Regions from separate parts of the Homo sapiens genome. Here region 2 is linked to region 1. The links come from fine-mapping of genetic effects on gene expression. A gene starts in region 1. The other region holds a variant in brackets. All regions are shown on one strand. Distances are from middle to middle.

Region 1 (8,349 bases):
TGGAACCATTCACCTTGAGAACCAGAACAAGATAAGGATGCCCTCTCTCCACTCCTATTCAACATAGTACTGGAAGTCCTAGCCAGAGCAGTCAGGCAAGAGAAAGAAATAAAAAGCATCCACGTATGAAAAGAAGTCACACAATCTCTTTTCCTTGATGATATGAATCTATACTTAGAAAATTTTAAAGATGCTGCCAAAAGGCTCCTAGAAATTGCCTTGTGAACTTGCATATGATTGGCTTATAAATTTGGACAGCTTAAGTAAAGTTGCAGGATACAAAATTAATGTACAAAAATCAGTACCATTTCTATGCATCAACAACATCCAGGCTGAGAGTGAAATCAAGAACACAGTCCCCAAAATCTCAAAAATCACCACTAAAGAACTTACTCATGTAACAAAACACCACCAGTTCCCCAATAACCTGTGGAAATGAAAAATTAAACAAAAATAAAGAACACAGTCTCACTCACAACAGCCACAAAGAAAATGAAATACCTAGAAATACACCTAACCAAGGAGGTGAAAAGTCTCCACAAAGAGAACTACAAAACACTGATGAAAGAAATCAGGAATGACACAAATAAATGGAAAAACATTCCATGTTCATGGATTGGAAGAATCAATATCATAAAAATGGCCATACTGCCCAAAGCAATCTACAGATTCAGTGCTATTCCTATCAAACTGCTAATGGCATTCTTCACACAATTAGAAAAAAAAAAAACTATTCTAAAATTCACATGAAACCAAAAAAGAGCCCAAATAACCAAAGCAATCCAAAGCAAAAAGAACAAAGACGGAGGCATCACACTACCCAACTTCAAACTACACTATAAAGCCACAGTAAACAAAACAACTTGGGTGGCTGGGCACAGTGGCTCACATCTGTAATCCCAGCACTTTGGGAGGCTGAGGTGGCCAGATCACTTGAGGTCAGGAGTTTGAAACCAGCCTGGCCAACATGGTGAAACCCCATCTCTACTAAAACATACACAAATCAGCCAGGCGTGGTGGCGGGCACCTGTAATTCCAGCTACTGGGGAGGCTGAGGCAGGAGAATTGCTTGAATCCAGGGGCATAGGTTGCAGTGAGCTGAGATCACACCATTGCACTCCAGCCTAGGCGACAGAGTGAGACTCAGTCTCAAAAACAAACAAACAAACAAATAAAGACAGCTTGGTAGTGGTACAAAAACAGACACATAGACCAATGGAACAGAATAGAGAACTCAGAAATAAAGCTGCACAGCTACAACCATCTGATCTTTGACAAGGCCAACCAAAACAAGCAGTGGGAAAACAATTCCATATTCAGTAAATGGTGCTGAGATAACTGGCTAGCCATATGCAGAAGATTGAAGCTGGGCCCATACCTTTCTCCATATGCAAAAATTAACTAAAAATGGATTAAAGATTTTAATGTAAGATCTCAAACTATAGAAATCCTGGAAGAAAACCTAGGAAATACTCTTTTCGACATTGGCCTTGGTAAAGAATTTTTGGCTAAGTCCCTAAAAGCAATTGCAATAAAACCAGAAATAGACCAGTGGGACCTCATTAAACTAAAGAGCTTCTGTACAGCAAAAGAAACTATCAGCAGAGCAAACAGACAACCTACAGAATGGGAGAAGATATTTGCAAACTATGTATCTGACAAAGGTCTAATACTCAGAATCTATAGGGAACTTGAAAAAATTAACAAGTAAAAACCAAATAACACCATTAAAAAGTGGGCAAATGACATGAACAGGCACTTTTCGAAAGAAGACATACAAATGGCCAACAAATATATGAAACAATACTCAGCATCACTATCATCAGAGAAATGCAAATCAAAACCACAATGAGATACCATCTCACACCAGTCAGAATGGCTATTACTAAAAAGTCAAAAAACAACAGATGCTGGCTGGCAAGGCAGCAGAGAAAAGCAAACACTTATACACTGTTGGTGGAAATGTAAATTAGTCCAGCCGCTGTGGAAAGCAGTCTGGAGATTTCTGAAAGAACTTAAAACAATTCTACCACTGGACACAGCAATCCCATTACTGGGTATGTACCCAAAAGAAATTATTCTACCAAAAAGACACATGCACTTGTATGTTCATCACTGCACTGTTCACAATAGCAAAGACATGGAGTCAACCCAGGTTCCCATCAGTGGTAAATGGGATAAAGAAAATGTGCTACATATACATTATGGAATACTAGGCAGCCATAAAAAAGAAAGAAATCATTCTTTGCAGCAACATGCACGGAGCTGGAGGCCATAATTCTAAGCAAGTTAGTGCAGGAACAGAAAACCAAATACCACATGTTCTCATTTATGAAGGGAGCTAAGCATTGAGCACACATGGACATTAATATGGGAACAACAGATATTGTGGACTACTAGAGGGTGCAGGGAGGTGGGGAGGATAAAAAAAAAAACAACTATTGGGTACTATGCTCACTACCAGGATGACAGGATCTGTACCTTAAGCCTCAGCATCATGTAATATTCCCATATGACAAATCTGCACATGTACCCCCTTATCTAAAATTAAAGTTGAAAAAAAATGAAACAAAATGACATTGAACTTCTCAATAGCAACACTGGATTCTACAAACTAATGGAAAAATAAACACAAAATCAGGGGGGAAAAGGTTTTTCAGCTTGGAACTTTATACTGCGTCAGACTCTCAAACAAAAATAAAGGTTGTCTAAGATATTTTCAGACATAATTATTATTATTATTATTATTAATAAAAGTTTATAACCCATATAAAGAAGTTAGTAGAGAATGTATTCCCCAAAAAAATGATGAAGTACATCAATGAAGAGCAAGACAATGAATCTAGGAAATAATGATCCGATACAGGAGCACAGACAAAGGGAATTTCAGAAAGAGATGTGCAGCTAGCCGGCAGAGTAACCAGCTCAGATGAAAAAAGAAGGATGGAGGGCTCTGGGAGGGAGCTGCTCCCATCCCTTTCTACCTCTTTCTCACCAAGTTTGGTGAGTTTTCCTTAGGATCTTTTTGGGCCCCTCAAGCAACTTTCAAGAACCTTGCATATCAGAGAAAAAAAGGGTTGGAGTTTCCAATCCTTTCATTCTGAGAAGACCTCTAGGTTCTTCATATAAACAGTCCCACTCCTTCCCCAGAAACTTTCTACCTCCACAAATAAATACTATAGAGGCAAGAATAAAATGTGGTTTTGCCTCACTAGAGACCCTGCTTTAAAAAATGTGAGAAACATCACCATATTCTTTTGGAAGATTGCCCTCAAGACCTCCCATTTTTCTTTGCTCTCCAAGTCTACATCCCCCCGGCTACCTTCTGGGGACCAAGGTAGTTCTTCTTGGTCTGGAAAATTTGCGTGCTTAAAAAGAACTGGACACAAATAATGGAATGGTCTTTTACCCACTGAAAATAAATAATCTGCTGTCCAAATTTATAAGCCAACCATATGCAAGTTCACAAGGCAATTTCTCAAGTCCTAATCCCTAGACGGCTCAGAGACTGAGGCCCATACATTGCATAGGAACCACACCAAGGTACAGCCATCCCATGAAGCCCAGGTGCACACCAGATTTGTTATACTAATAGTTCCAGGTTTACAGTGGTGAAGTTCTAATCCAGAGTTGAGAAATTCCCACCTGCCTTTACTTGGGAATCCTAATTATTTTAGAAAAAACTGAACAGTAGACAAAGAACTGTCAGAGAAACCCAAAGCAGGCTATTGCGGTCTGTATGGACAGATACACCTTTACAAGAACTGCACTGTGTCCTGCAAATCATTGGTCCTAGAAATGGGGGATTCTGGGGAAAAGGGGAAACTACTACAAGAATGAAAATGACTGGCTATGGGGGATGCTATCTATAAAAATATTCCAAGACTGACCCACTCATTGCCCCAATCCATTTCTTATATTACTCTAAGGTAAAGAAATACTTACCACAAATGTTTGTCCTTAAGACTGTCGCAGCTCATTCTGTTTCCTCGGCCAAAAGAATGTACAATACTCTCTGCCTGCTCCAAGAACAAAAGCCTTCTTGCTCTTAACATGAAAAAAAGTTTCAAAGCCAATCTGATGTCAGCAACTGAAAGTGTAGAGAAGCCTTGACTTGAAGTAGAACCCAGAAACAAAATTATAAATCATACACTGTATCACAGTAGAGGAAGGAGACCTAATTTTTTTTTTTATTTACAAGGACAAATCTGGAGAAACAGAACGCCCACTCAAGAGTTAGCCCGACAGTTTGAAAACAAAATACTTCTGCACAAAATGCAGAAGAAGCTGGGCATATCTTTTTTTGTACACGACAAATAAAAATTGTATGGTGTACAATATGATTTCTGATGTATGTATACATCCTGGAATGGCTAAATCAAGCTAATTAATACTTTCTTTACCTCACATATGTATCCTTTTTGTGGTGGGAACATGTAAAATCTACTCTCTTAGCAGTTTTCAAGTACACAATATATTGTTATTAACTATAGTTATCATGATGTACAATAGGTTTCTTGGCAGGGCGCAGCGGCTCACACCTGTAATCCCAGCACTTTGGGGGGCCGAGGTGGGTGGATCACTTGAGGTCACGAGTTCGAGACAAGCCTGGCCAACATGGTGAAACCTCATATCTACTAAAAATACAAAAATTAGCTGGGTGTGATGGCGGACACCTGTAATCCCACCTACTCAGGAGGCTGAGGCAGGAGAATCGCTTGAAGCCAAGAGGCAGAGGTTGCAGTGAGCTGAGATCACACCACTGCACTCCAGCCTGGGCAATAAAGTAAGACTCCATCTCAAAAAATATATACAAATAAAAATATGAAAAAAAATTTAAAAATTAAAAAATAGATCTCTTGATCTTTGTCCTCCTGTCTACGTGTAATGATGCATCCTTTGACCAACATCTCCCAAAACCCTGCCCCATCCTCTGGAAACCACCATTCTACTTTCTACTTCTATGAGTTTGACTTTTTTAGATTCCCCATAGGAGTGAGATCATACAGTATTTTTCTTTCTGTGTCTGGATTATTTCACTTAGCATAATGTCCACTAGGTTCATCCGTACTGTCACAAATGACAGAATTTCATTCTTTTTTAAAGGCTGAATAGCATTTGTGTATATATAGTATAGTATATATAGCATATACTATATACATAGCATATATAGCATATACTATATACATAGCATATATAGCATATACTATATACATAGCATATATAGCATATACTATATACATAGCATATATAGCATATACTATATACATAGTATATATAGCATATACTATGTATATAGTATATGCTATATATACTATGTATATAGTATATATAGCATATACTATATACATAGCATATATAGCATATACTATATACATAGCATATATAGCATATACTATATATACGAATGCTATTCGTATATATATACACTATATAGACACGAATGCTATCATTCATATATATATATATATATATATATATATACAGTATATATAAAAAATATTTTCTTGAGGTTGCTTCCATATCTTGGCTATTGTGAAGAGTGCTGCAATGAACATGGGAGTGTAGATATCTCTTTGACAGACTGATTTCATTTTCTTTGGATATATACCCAGTAGTGGCATTGCTGGATCATATGGTAATTGATAATATGACCATAAATGCCTGGATTTTTTCTGGGCCAGAACATTCATACTGTTTTCCATAGTGGCTGTGCTAATTTACATTCCCACCAACAAGGGCTCCCTTTTCTCCACATCCTCACAAGCACTTGTTATCTTATGTTTTTGATAATTGCTACCCTAACAGGTGCAAAATGTTATCTAAATGTGGTTTTAATTTGCATTTTTGTGATGATAAGTGATGTTGAACATTTTGTCATATACTGGTTGGCCATTTGTATGTCTTCTTTTTAAGAAATGTCTACTCAGGTTCTTTGACCATTTTTAATTGGGTTATTTACTACTTTTTGCTATTGAGTTGAGTTCTTTATATATCTTGGGTATTAACCACTTATCAGATGTATGGTCTGTAAGTATTTTTCCCATTCCATAGATGGTCTTTTGACTCAGTTGTTTCCTTTGATGTACAGAAAACTTTTTAGTTTAATGCTATCCCATTTGTCTATATTTCCTTTTGTTGTCTGTGCTTTTGGGGTCATATCCAAAAAATCTCTGCCTAGACTAATGTCAAGAAACTTTTCTTCTATGTTACTTATTTTGAATTGACACATAGCAAATACATACATATGTATATATATATATATATATATATATAAAATTTATGGAGTGCAGTGTGATGTTTTAATACATGTATACACTGTATAATGATGAAATCAGGGTAATTAGCATATCCATGACCTCATATATTTGTCATATCTTTGTGGTGAGAACATTCAGTTTGAGGTCTTACCTTTAAGTCTTTAATCCATTTTGAGTTGATTTTTGCACATGGTGTGAGATGTGTCTAATTTCATTGTTTTGCATGTGTATATCCAGTTTTCCCAACACCATTTATTGATGAGGCTGTCTTTTCTCCATTGTGTGTTTTTGGCAACTTTTTTGAAGAACAGTTGACCATAAATGCCTGGATTTATTTCTGGGCCAGAAGATCTTTAAGGTATGTCCCAACCTTAATATATGTAGATAAAGGTAAATATATATATCCAGAAAAGCTTATTAAAATACTATCATCCTTACTTGGTTCTTTTTTGTATGTTATCTATATAATTGAAAATGGACATGCATTTACTTTACAACAAGAAAATATAACACATATTTTTAAAAGATACCAAAAATAGAAGTGATCCTTTTAAAACTTAAGTGAGATTATGTCACTCCTCTGTTCATAATATTCCAGACTTCTACTGGAATTCAGAATCAAATCTAATGTCCTTATCATAGTCTACACAGCTCTACATGCTCTCATCCTTCCATACCTAATTTCAACTCCTACCAATCTCCCTCCATTTTGGTCACAGTGACCTCCTGGCAGTACCTCCAATATGCCATGAAAGCTCCTATCTTGGGGTCTGGGCATTTGCTGTTCACATGGCCTGGATTCCCCTTCATCCATATATATGAATGGCTCCCTCTCTCACTTAATTCAGTTCTCTGCTCAAATGTCACCTTGTCAGAGAGAACTTCTTTTACTACCATATCTAAAGTAGCACCTGCTATCATTCTCGGAATATTTGCTTTGATTGCATAAACACTAAAACTTTCTGTGCAATATAAAAGATACATTCTTAATGATTAATTGACACAGAGAAAAATATTTGTGAAATACATGACAACATGCACATATTCTAATATACAGAATTATAATGAGTAAAAAAGGTGAGCAACTTAATAGGACAATGGGTGAAGGAAGTGTAATTGACAAAAGAGGAAATATAAACACCCACATGTACATGGAAAATCTATTGGAACTCACAAATAAGCAAAGAAAAGCTAATATTACCAAGAGTAAACACTATTTTTCCTTTAATCCAGGAGTTGGCAAATTTTTTTTTCTGTAAACAGCTAAGATAATAGAAATGTCCCCCTTTGTGGGCCACATATAGTCTTGGTCAGACATTCTTCATTACCTTTTTTTCCCTACAGCCCTAAAGATGCTGACTGGGTTGCTGACCCCAGATCTATGAGGAATGATTAAAGATGGAGAGCACTTAATGCTGAGAATGGGGAGGGTAAACTGGCTGACTGTTGTTGCGGGCACAGATTCATATAGCTTTTCTCAAAGACAGTTTGTCATGTACATATCTTTTGCCCCAGGAATTCCACATTTTTGACTTTACACCAAGAAGCTACTCGGGCAGGAATGGAAATATTTTTGTACAGAATACATTGCCATGTTATTCATAATAGCAGGCAAGAGGAGGAGGAGAAATTTATATAATAAACTAGGAAATAGTTAAACCATGTGCATGAAATAAATGAAATGCCACACAGCTATTTAAAAGTCATATATATATGAATTAATTTATATAGAACAATCATACGACTTTTTATGGTTTAAAATTATAGTGTGTATAACATAGTTCAATAGATACAAAATTATATATGTATATATGTTGTGTATATGTGTATATATACATATACATATTCAAAAAAATATGGTTACCTCAGGGGGGTTGTGATACTAAGTGACTTTTATGTTTATATTATTAGGTATTGCTTGATTTTGAGCAAGTATCGTCAGTATAATCAGAAAAAAATAAAATTCTTATTGAATTTAGCAAAACCTCAGGTCAATTAAAATGGACTTTTGCCTGAAGTGCAACAGTTTTCTAAACTTATTCTTACAATATAATAATGCAAGATAGTTTTCACAATTTGAACAAATAGT
Region 2 (8,349 bases), 120 kb before region 1:
ATTGAGAAATCATTTGGGAAACGGTAAACTATCACACAAATATGTATTATGGTCATCATAGTATTAGGAGAAACAATATCTACTTTTTTAAAGACTGCATTTCAGAGTCAATGCTGTACAGCTTTGTGATTATCCATGCCATTATCCTTTTTTTTTTTTTTTTTTTTTTTTGAGACAGAGTTTCGCTCTTGTTGCCCAGGCTGGAGTGCAAGGGCACTATCTCAGCTCACTGCAACCTGCACCTCCTGGGTTCAAGCGATTCTCCTGCCTCAGCCTCCTGAATAGCTGGGATTACAGGCATGCGCCACCACAACCGCCTAATTTTGTATTTTTAGTAGAGACGAGGTTTACCCTCTTATACTAACAGTAGAACTGCCAAATGTAATTGATTCCTCTGAAGGGCACCAAGGAGCACTCTACCTCCAAGCATCACTCCTACCTTCCAAGCTGGTGACTTTAGAAAAGTAGGGATTTACTCCCAAACAGTCCTACCTCCTCTTTAATAGCCCACTGGTATCCTACCAACTTGCAAACTATTCCTTCTATAAACACTTTAACCTTAAAGCAACCTCCTTTAATTTTACAGGGTGCTCCCTTGCTCTAATATGCTGAGATTTTATATCATTAGTGTATTTTTGAGAACACACTAAAATATATCCCCCAGATGTTATTAAATCGTTTTTAATGTATAATGCTTATTTCCTTTATTTTCTAATCTGGAATCCAAACTGGTTTTTAAAGTGTATTTGAAGCCCCTTTGTTCTCTGATTTTATTTCACATGCCTGGATGGAAAACACAGTGGTGAAGCTCTACTAAAGATAAAACTGGGATTTTAGAGATTTGGAAAGATTGACTATCTATTTCATCAACATCAGCAGAAGCTCTATGTATAGGTCAAACAGGTTCTACTTAAAGACAGAAGTGCTTCCTGATGTTCATAATAAGATTTATTTCAACTATTTTAGCAATGGCTTACTCCTAATGGCCTCAAGGATGCTGACAAAAGATTGCCCCTATGTGCTCCACCTATATTTCATCAGTAAAACTGCCTCAATAATTTTAATTTACTATATTATTACTAACCATGAGGGGCCTATTTTCTTCTTCATTTTCATCATAAGTAGGGTAGAAATAGTTGCTTGACCATTCCGCAGGTTCTTCAGAGATTTCTGCAGATTGTGATGCCTCAGTCCAAACTATAAGAAAAGTGTGGAATGTGGCAGTTACTTCATGGTGCTAATTTACCACAAGGTGAGAAGTAAAACTAGCTGTAATCCTTTAAAAAGTTGAATTTAAAAAAATGGATTAACCAATCTAATGTAAGCAGCAAATTAACAGATCTCATCCTGGCCACATTAAACTATTCATGCAACCTGGGAAAAGTCATTGTCATCTTTTTCTAACTTGGTTTCCTCACCTGTCAAATGAAGGCATTAGTACTATGCTCTCTCCTTACTTCTTTGGGGGCCACAGCATAGATGACCTGAGGGAAGTGACCTTTAATTGGATAAATGGAAACTCTACAAGGCTATCATTACCTTTTTCTCCTCAACCAGTAGAGAACTCTTCCATATTAAGGATCATCATATTAAAGTGTTGAGTATCAGGCACTCTGTTAGGCATTTCTCCAAAGAAGTCTATGCTGTTGATCCTAGAGTTGTTTAGGTGATCCTCATGTATGCTTCTACAGCACTTCGTACTTCCCTGCTGTAACACTCGCCAAATTTACTTTTAATTGCTTGTTTAACTATCTTTCTATTCTCCTAGCTTCATGAGGATGGCAGCTGAGTGTATCCTAGTTAGACTATATGCCTAGCACTTTGCATAACTCCTGGAATGCAGATCATGCTATGTCAATATTTGTTGAATTAAATAAAGTATTTAAAATCACTTCAAATAAAACCATTCACAGAGGAAGAATAAATATTTCGGCTGTTAATGACTCTTCTCTATTCATTAAACCAACGGTAAGTGAAATGCGCATTCCTTGAAGCCAGTATATATGTTTTATTCATCACTATATCCTTTATAGCAGGGGTTCCCAAACTTGACCATGCATCAAAATCACAGAGAGAGCCTGTTAAAACTCAAGTGGCTGGGCCTTGTTCCCAGAGTTTCTGATCCAGAAGGTCTGAATAGAGCAAGAGAATTTGTCTTCTGTAAAAGTTTCCAGGTGATGTTGATTCTAGTGGTCCAGGGACCACACTTTGACAACCAATACTCTCTAGTGCCCATCAGAGTGTCCTGCATATGCAAGACATGAGAGCCTTATAAAAATGGGTTAACTGTATTTTGTTTATACAAAAATACCAAGTGGGTAGATTTCCAAATTAATAATACGAGGTAAAAATTTGCACACCCATGAGTCTCGTCTTAAGATGACCATGACACATACCTGTATTTGCTTCTGCCTGAACTGACGCAATTGCCTCACAGACCTCCACCACAGTGCTGGTGTGTTCCAATTCAGTTTCCTCAGTACTTATAAAAGCTCCCTGTTGCTTTCTGAAATAGTGATGTATAAAACTAAGTGAGCTTTTGTACAGTTTACAAGTAAAAAGAAATTTAAAGTGGTATTTCTTCCATTGATACCAAGTGTTAAGAACATGCTGAGAATCCATCCAAACAGCCAATACTCCCTATTTAAATCTGTGTGGCAATAGGTTATAATATACAAAAGCTTAAATCTCAGATCCAAGCCAGCAGGTTCTCTATTATGTAAGGAGAAAAACTACTCCCTTCTAGACCCAAAGTAAGGGTATTGTATACAATCCCCGTTGCTCTGTGGACTTATAACATTAATGAATTAGGTAAGTTGTTGTATATAAATGAAGATGAAACCTTCAACTGATTCATATTGTTGAGTATGTACCAGCTACTATTAAGTCAATTACTGCATAAAACCTAAAGATGTTACTCCTATAATGTACGATAAAAGATGGAGCTTTTTGAACTCTGAAAGATAAAGACTTTATCTGCAACTTTTAAATGGTTCTCCTAAATCTCCACGTGAACCACCATATGTTTCATCTGATTTTAGCTACCTCAGAAAGATGACATGCAGCGAAGGAAAAAACAGTATTTCTAATAAGTCATTCAATGATCACCACAGCAAGCAGATGCTGTGTGGTGAATCTCTGTGCCAGGCCTTCAGAATCAATGAGAGAATTCTTTCTGTATATATGCAAATGTTCAGCGAGAACTCCACCTTTTGGAATTTCTAGAGGCTTCCTTAATGACTCCTGGTTGTGTCCAGGCTCAGTTCCCTCCCAGGATCCATACCTTCTCTCTATGTAGAGAGAGGCCAAATCACCAGCAAGAGGTCCCCATCAAGGGACTGTAAAACTGTGAGCCAGTCCTTCATTTGCTCTATTCCCATATTCTTACAACCCTCTTTTTCCAGTCAGATCAAAGGTGACCAAAAATACTTTGAAAAAAAAAGCTTATGAGCACAGCCTCCTTTCCTGTCAGCCTACATGTAATTCTTCCAATGATATATTAAAAATAAAGCATTTTCAATCATGTTTAGAAATCAACCCAAGGGATAACTATTAAGAACTATCAGCCTCCAGTATAAGGCTGGACCTCAGAAAATGATGTTTATGGAATTTGATGAGTTATTGCTAAATTGGTGGATGGTTCTTGTCAGAGATACTTTAATTACATTGCTTCATGTTACATACAGAAAACAAAAGATTGCAGGAGTGGTATTTCTTAAAGAATAATCACTTACTCATCATTCTGCTGAAGAGAAATCTGAAACTTATCCCGTTCTGTTAATTGATCCTGTTGCTTTCTTTTTTTAACTGAGAAATAAAACAAAGCATATTATCATTCAGAAGTCACACTTCTTACTTCCTTGAAGGCCAATGACTTTCTCTCTCTCACACACACACACACACACACACACGCATCCTTGCCATTAGACTTAAGCTTCACAGACTTGAAATAATCAGAGGGAAGGCCAGTCTCAAGTTTGAATTTGGAAAGGTCTGGACCATATAATATTTTATTCAAGAAGTTCAAGTTTAGAAGTAGAACTGGCTCCCATTCCATCATTATAGAGCAATGATTACTCGAGATATTAAGCAGAGTCACCTCATGGAAAGGACTGGGGATTACCACAATCAGTTCACTGTGTTGCTTCTCAACTGCTTCTTAAGCACAAGGGTTCATTTTCTAGTGTAAAGTTCATTCTTCAAAATAGTTTAAACAATCCTCTGAATCTCAATCTCCTACTAATTAAATTAACAAATCTTCTCATTGTAATAGTATAAAGTAAATATCAGCCCCATTCTCTGGAAAAATAATTTAAAAATCTGAGTCAATAAGCTGTTACTATACTTCTTGTTCTGAAGAATGCAGGCTTGAATTTACCTGTCAAAAGTTCCTGCTGCTTCAACAAAATATTTCTTATTTCTTTTAGCCACGTCATCTTCACATCTACATTAGAAGCCTAAAGATTAAAAAAAAAGCGGGAGGGAGGTGGTACACATTTCCTTTTAAAAAGGATGTACTATAATAAAACAAATGTAATTGTGTACATAAAATATGATCTACTCCCTATAACACCATACTCAAATCTTAACCGTTTGATTGTTAAAATTTTTATGAAGCAAATAATTTGCTATCAGATTAGATGAAATAATACAGTCAGAACCATTTTTGCTGTAATCCCAGGACTTTGGGAGGCCAAGGTGGGCAGATCTCTTGAGCCCAGGAGTTTGAGACCAGCCTGGGGAACATAGGGAAACCCCATCTCTACTACTACTACTACTA[C/A]TAATAATAATAATAATAATTAGCCAGGTGTGGTGGCATGTGCCTGTAGTCCCAGCTACTTGAGAGGGTGAGGTGGGAGAATCGCTTGAGCCTGGGAGGCAGAGGTTGAAGTGAGCCGAGATCACACCACTGCACTCCAGCCTGAGCAACAGGGTGAGACGCTGTCTCAAAAAAAAAAAATCCATTTTGAAATTGCCCTTAAATAATGGTAAAATAATGCTTGGATGAAACTGTGAAATATAATTTCACTTATTTTGTCTTTACAGGAGGATTCTTTTTAAAATATAACATTTTGATGTTTAATTTTAGTAAAATAAAACAAGCTCTACTATTTCTGAAAAGGCCATCTATTGCAGAATAACCTTGGTGACTGATGGTAACATGAAATCCTCCTTAAATATCCTCCCATCACTTACAAGATGTTTGTTAAATGATACCAAATATTATATCTTAAGCAAGCCAAGAAAACATATTTTTATAGATTGCAGTCACCTAGTAAAGAATTACAACAAACAAAAAACACTGAGCATTTTTAACAGATAACAGCACATTGACAACTCCAGATACAAATATTTATTGCAATGACAACATCCTCTTGAAATGTTCTGATTCCTCTTCCCTTCCCTGAAACATGTTGGACCCTATACAACTGGCCAGGGCTTTAACCATGTTCTTTAGAAGCAGAAAGCAAGTCTGAACTGTCACATCCCCATGTCTCATAATCAGGTACCCCTAGAATGCTTAGCATAAGAGGAACTCAGAACTATTATAATTCCATAACTTGGAAATTTGATGGGGACAGAGAAGTACCTGCCAAGCTGTCAGCTCTAGTTGATAAGTCTCTTATGTAGTTGTGAAAACTTGAAGCCCTAGAGAACACCACAGGCATATCTCAATGTAACTACTAGAAAACATTTAAATACATCACAAAGAATATTCAAATAATATTTAACTGACCTACATGAAAGGGGTGGAAATTTTGAAATGCGACCAAAATTATTTTTGTTTATAAATTCGGGCTTTTGTATTTCAATGCAGGTTTGGGTTTCTAGAAGAATTTTCAAATGACCAACCTGGACAATATAAACTTCTTCCTTTTCACCATACCAGATTTCAAACTTGCGGTTATCACCTTTTACATATTCAGTGATTCCAACTTCATCCATCTATAATAAATAAGTCAAAATTTTCATGAGCATTTTATTTTGAATATGAAATTACATTAAATCTACCCTATCATATTCTAAGTGAAACAGAATTTCTCTTGGGCAGAAAAATACATGTTATATTAAATGAATATGAAATAGTAATTACAATCATAGACGAGAGTATTTAAATGTTTTCATTGAACTATGCACTTTATAGTTCAGATTGCACGCTTCATTTCAGTGGTTGACACAAATGTTATAAATCTGAACATCCAAGTAGCCCATCTAAGATCTAATTATGTTATAAATTAATAGTACACTATTAAAACAAATTATTGAGTCAAACACAGAAGTCATTAAACATCAATAAAGAAAAGCCACTGAAAATTAATTTAAATAGTTATTTAGAATAATCATTTGACAGACCACTTAATCCTACAAATTATAATTTATTTTGATAGAAGTCCTACAAGTTATAAACATCTAATTCATGGGACAGGAGAGAACCAGCCAGGTACACAAGGATCTCTCTATTTTCCACCAATCCCTTGGCCTTTCTAAAAAAAAAATAATAATAATAATATGTAATGGGACATTGTTGTCTTTTTGTACCCAGTGAAACTTCTGTACACAATATCTCTTCCTTATTCCTTACCACAATTTTTTCTTTTCCTCAGCGTGATTGTGCAAGTCATAAACTCTTCCATTTTCTTTCATCATTTTCTGCTAACAGCTTGGCTAATTGCATTTTGGGCAATCTCACTCCTTTGCACAAACATTCTTTTAGTTCCTTTCTGCCTTCCTCTTTTCTTTCAATTCTTAACCTAATTATCTAAAGGAGTATCTCACTCTCTGTTCTAGTTATGAGCCCCCCAAATGGCCCTTATTAGAGCTAATAAGCATTAAAGATAGTGCTAGGGAGATCGCCATACCAAGGAGAAGAAAAGCACTTATGCTTAGAAATGTAATTTAACATAACATATTAATGAAAGAACCTGTAACATCCACCCTGAACGTAGTAAGAAGTTATTTTCACAATGTCCCAAACTATCTTTATATTCTCACTCCATCATTCCAACTAACCTACTTCTGCTCAAATATCACAATTTAAGATGAATAGTAATCTCATATTCAATATTTTTAAAAATTAATTTTGTTTCATTACATGGTTTTGTCTTAATAACATGATAAGCTGGAAGGCCCACAGGCTTTGAAGTTAGAGAGGTCTGGATTGGAATACATCTCTACCATTCACTAGCTATGTGTCTTGGTGCAAGTTGCTTAACTTTTCTAAACTTCAGTTTCCTCAACTATAAAATAGAAAGAACACCTATTTCATAGGGTTGATATAAGGACTAAATAGCATGGAGTAAATGCTTAGATCCTATAATGAGCTTTCTAAAGTGTGAGTTTGCTTTCTACTCTTTCCCCTATTTAAGTTGCAATTGTTTTGTTATTTTTTTATTGCAAACATATAGTACATCATTATCAATTAAGTGAACTTTTCTAAGTTGCCCTGGAAATCTAACCATTATGTGTTGCACATAGTAAGGACTATGTGCAATTTGTAAAATTTTTAAAAATCGATGATAATAAACACATGAACTAAGGAATCTGAAGGACTCGAATCTCCCCATCTGGTCAACTTTGACTTTAGATAGGGCCTTTCCTTGCATATAAGCAGCCAACTTAAAATATAACATATAAATAATTAGAAAGTACATGGTCAGGCCATGGGATCCCAGCTTTGTATGGTGCAGTCAAAACAAGAGTTCATTTAAAGTGAGAGACATAGACAAAGGCAACAACAGACACTGGGGACTACCAGAGGAGGGACGGAGGGAGAGGGACAAGGGTTGGAAAACTAACTCTTGGGGACAATGCTCAGTACCTGGGTGATGGGATATTTGTGCCCCAAACCTAAACATCATGCAATACAGCCAGGTAACAAACCTGCAGATGTACCCCCTGAATCTAAAATAAAAGTTAAAAAAAAAAGTGAGAGAGAAGGTTCAGCAGTGGAATATCTGCAATGATCCTCTCTACCAAGGGTAAGACTGTGAAACTAATAACCCAGATTCTTAAATAACACATTGACTAGGAATGCTAGCAATTGCTTAATGCTGGAATCTCATGATAAGCAGGCAAGCAGAAGTGAGCGTAGTGAACCCTAAGAAATATCCTAATTTTTAGTGGTATCACCATTTTCCAAGTAATCCTGGTCTAAAGCCTTGTAGGCATCACTGGCTAATATTGTTTATTAAGGATACTTGGCATTACTGGGGAACCAAAGAAGAATCAGAAAGATTTTCTTCCTTCAATGTCAGGTATTATTTAATTTTTGTAGCTAGTAAGTCATCAAGCCCATCTGTCTACCTTCTATTGAAATGTTTCTTGAATCTATCCCACCTTCTCTGTTTC

The links.
Region 2: its variant is fine-mapped to the expression of MCF2 in whole blood (TOPMed, PIP 0.95).

Annotation. Positions count from the first base shown.
Region 1 is chrX:139,704,161-139,712,509 of GRCh38, forward strand. MCF2 (MCF.2 cell line derived transforming sequence) reads right to left here and starts at 4,007. Exons shown (of 29, transcript NM_001171876.2): 1 at 3,946-4,007.
Region 2 is chrX:139,583,982-139,592,330 of GRCh38, forward strand. MCF2 (MCF.2 cell line derived transforming sequence) reads right to left here. Exons shown (of 29, transcript NM_001171876.2): 24 at 5,854-5,946; 25 at 4,379-4,457; 26 at 3,735-3,807; 27 at 2,397-2,506; 28 at 1,085-1,197. Among named protein-coding and RNA genes, the nearest start is that of F9, 57 kb to the left of the region's middle. The variant C/A (reference allele first, on the strand shown) is at 4,781.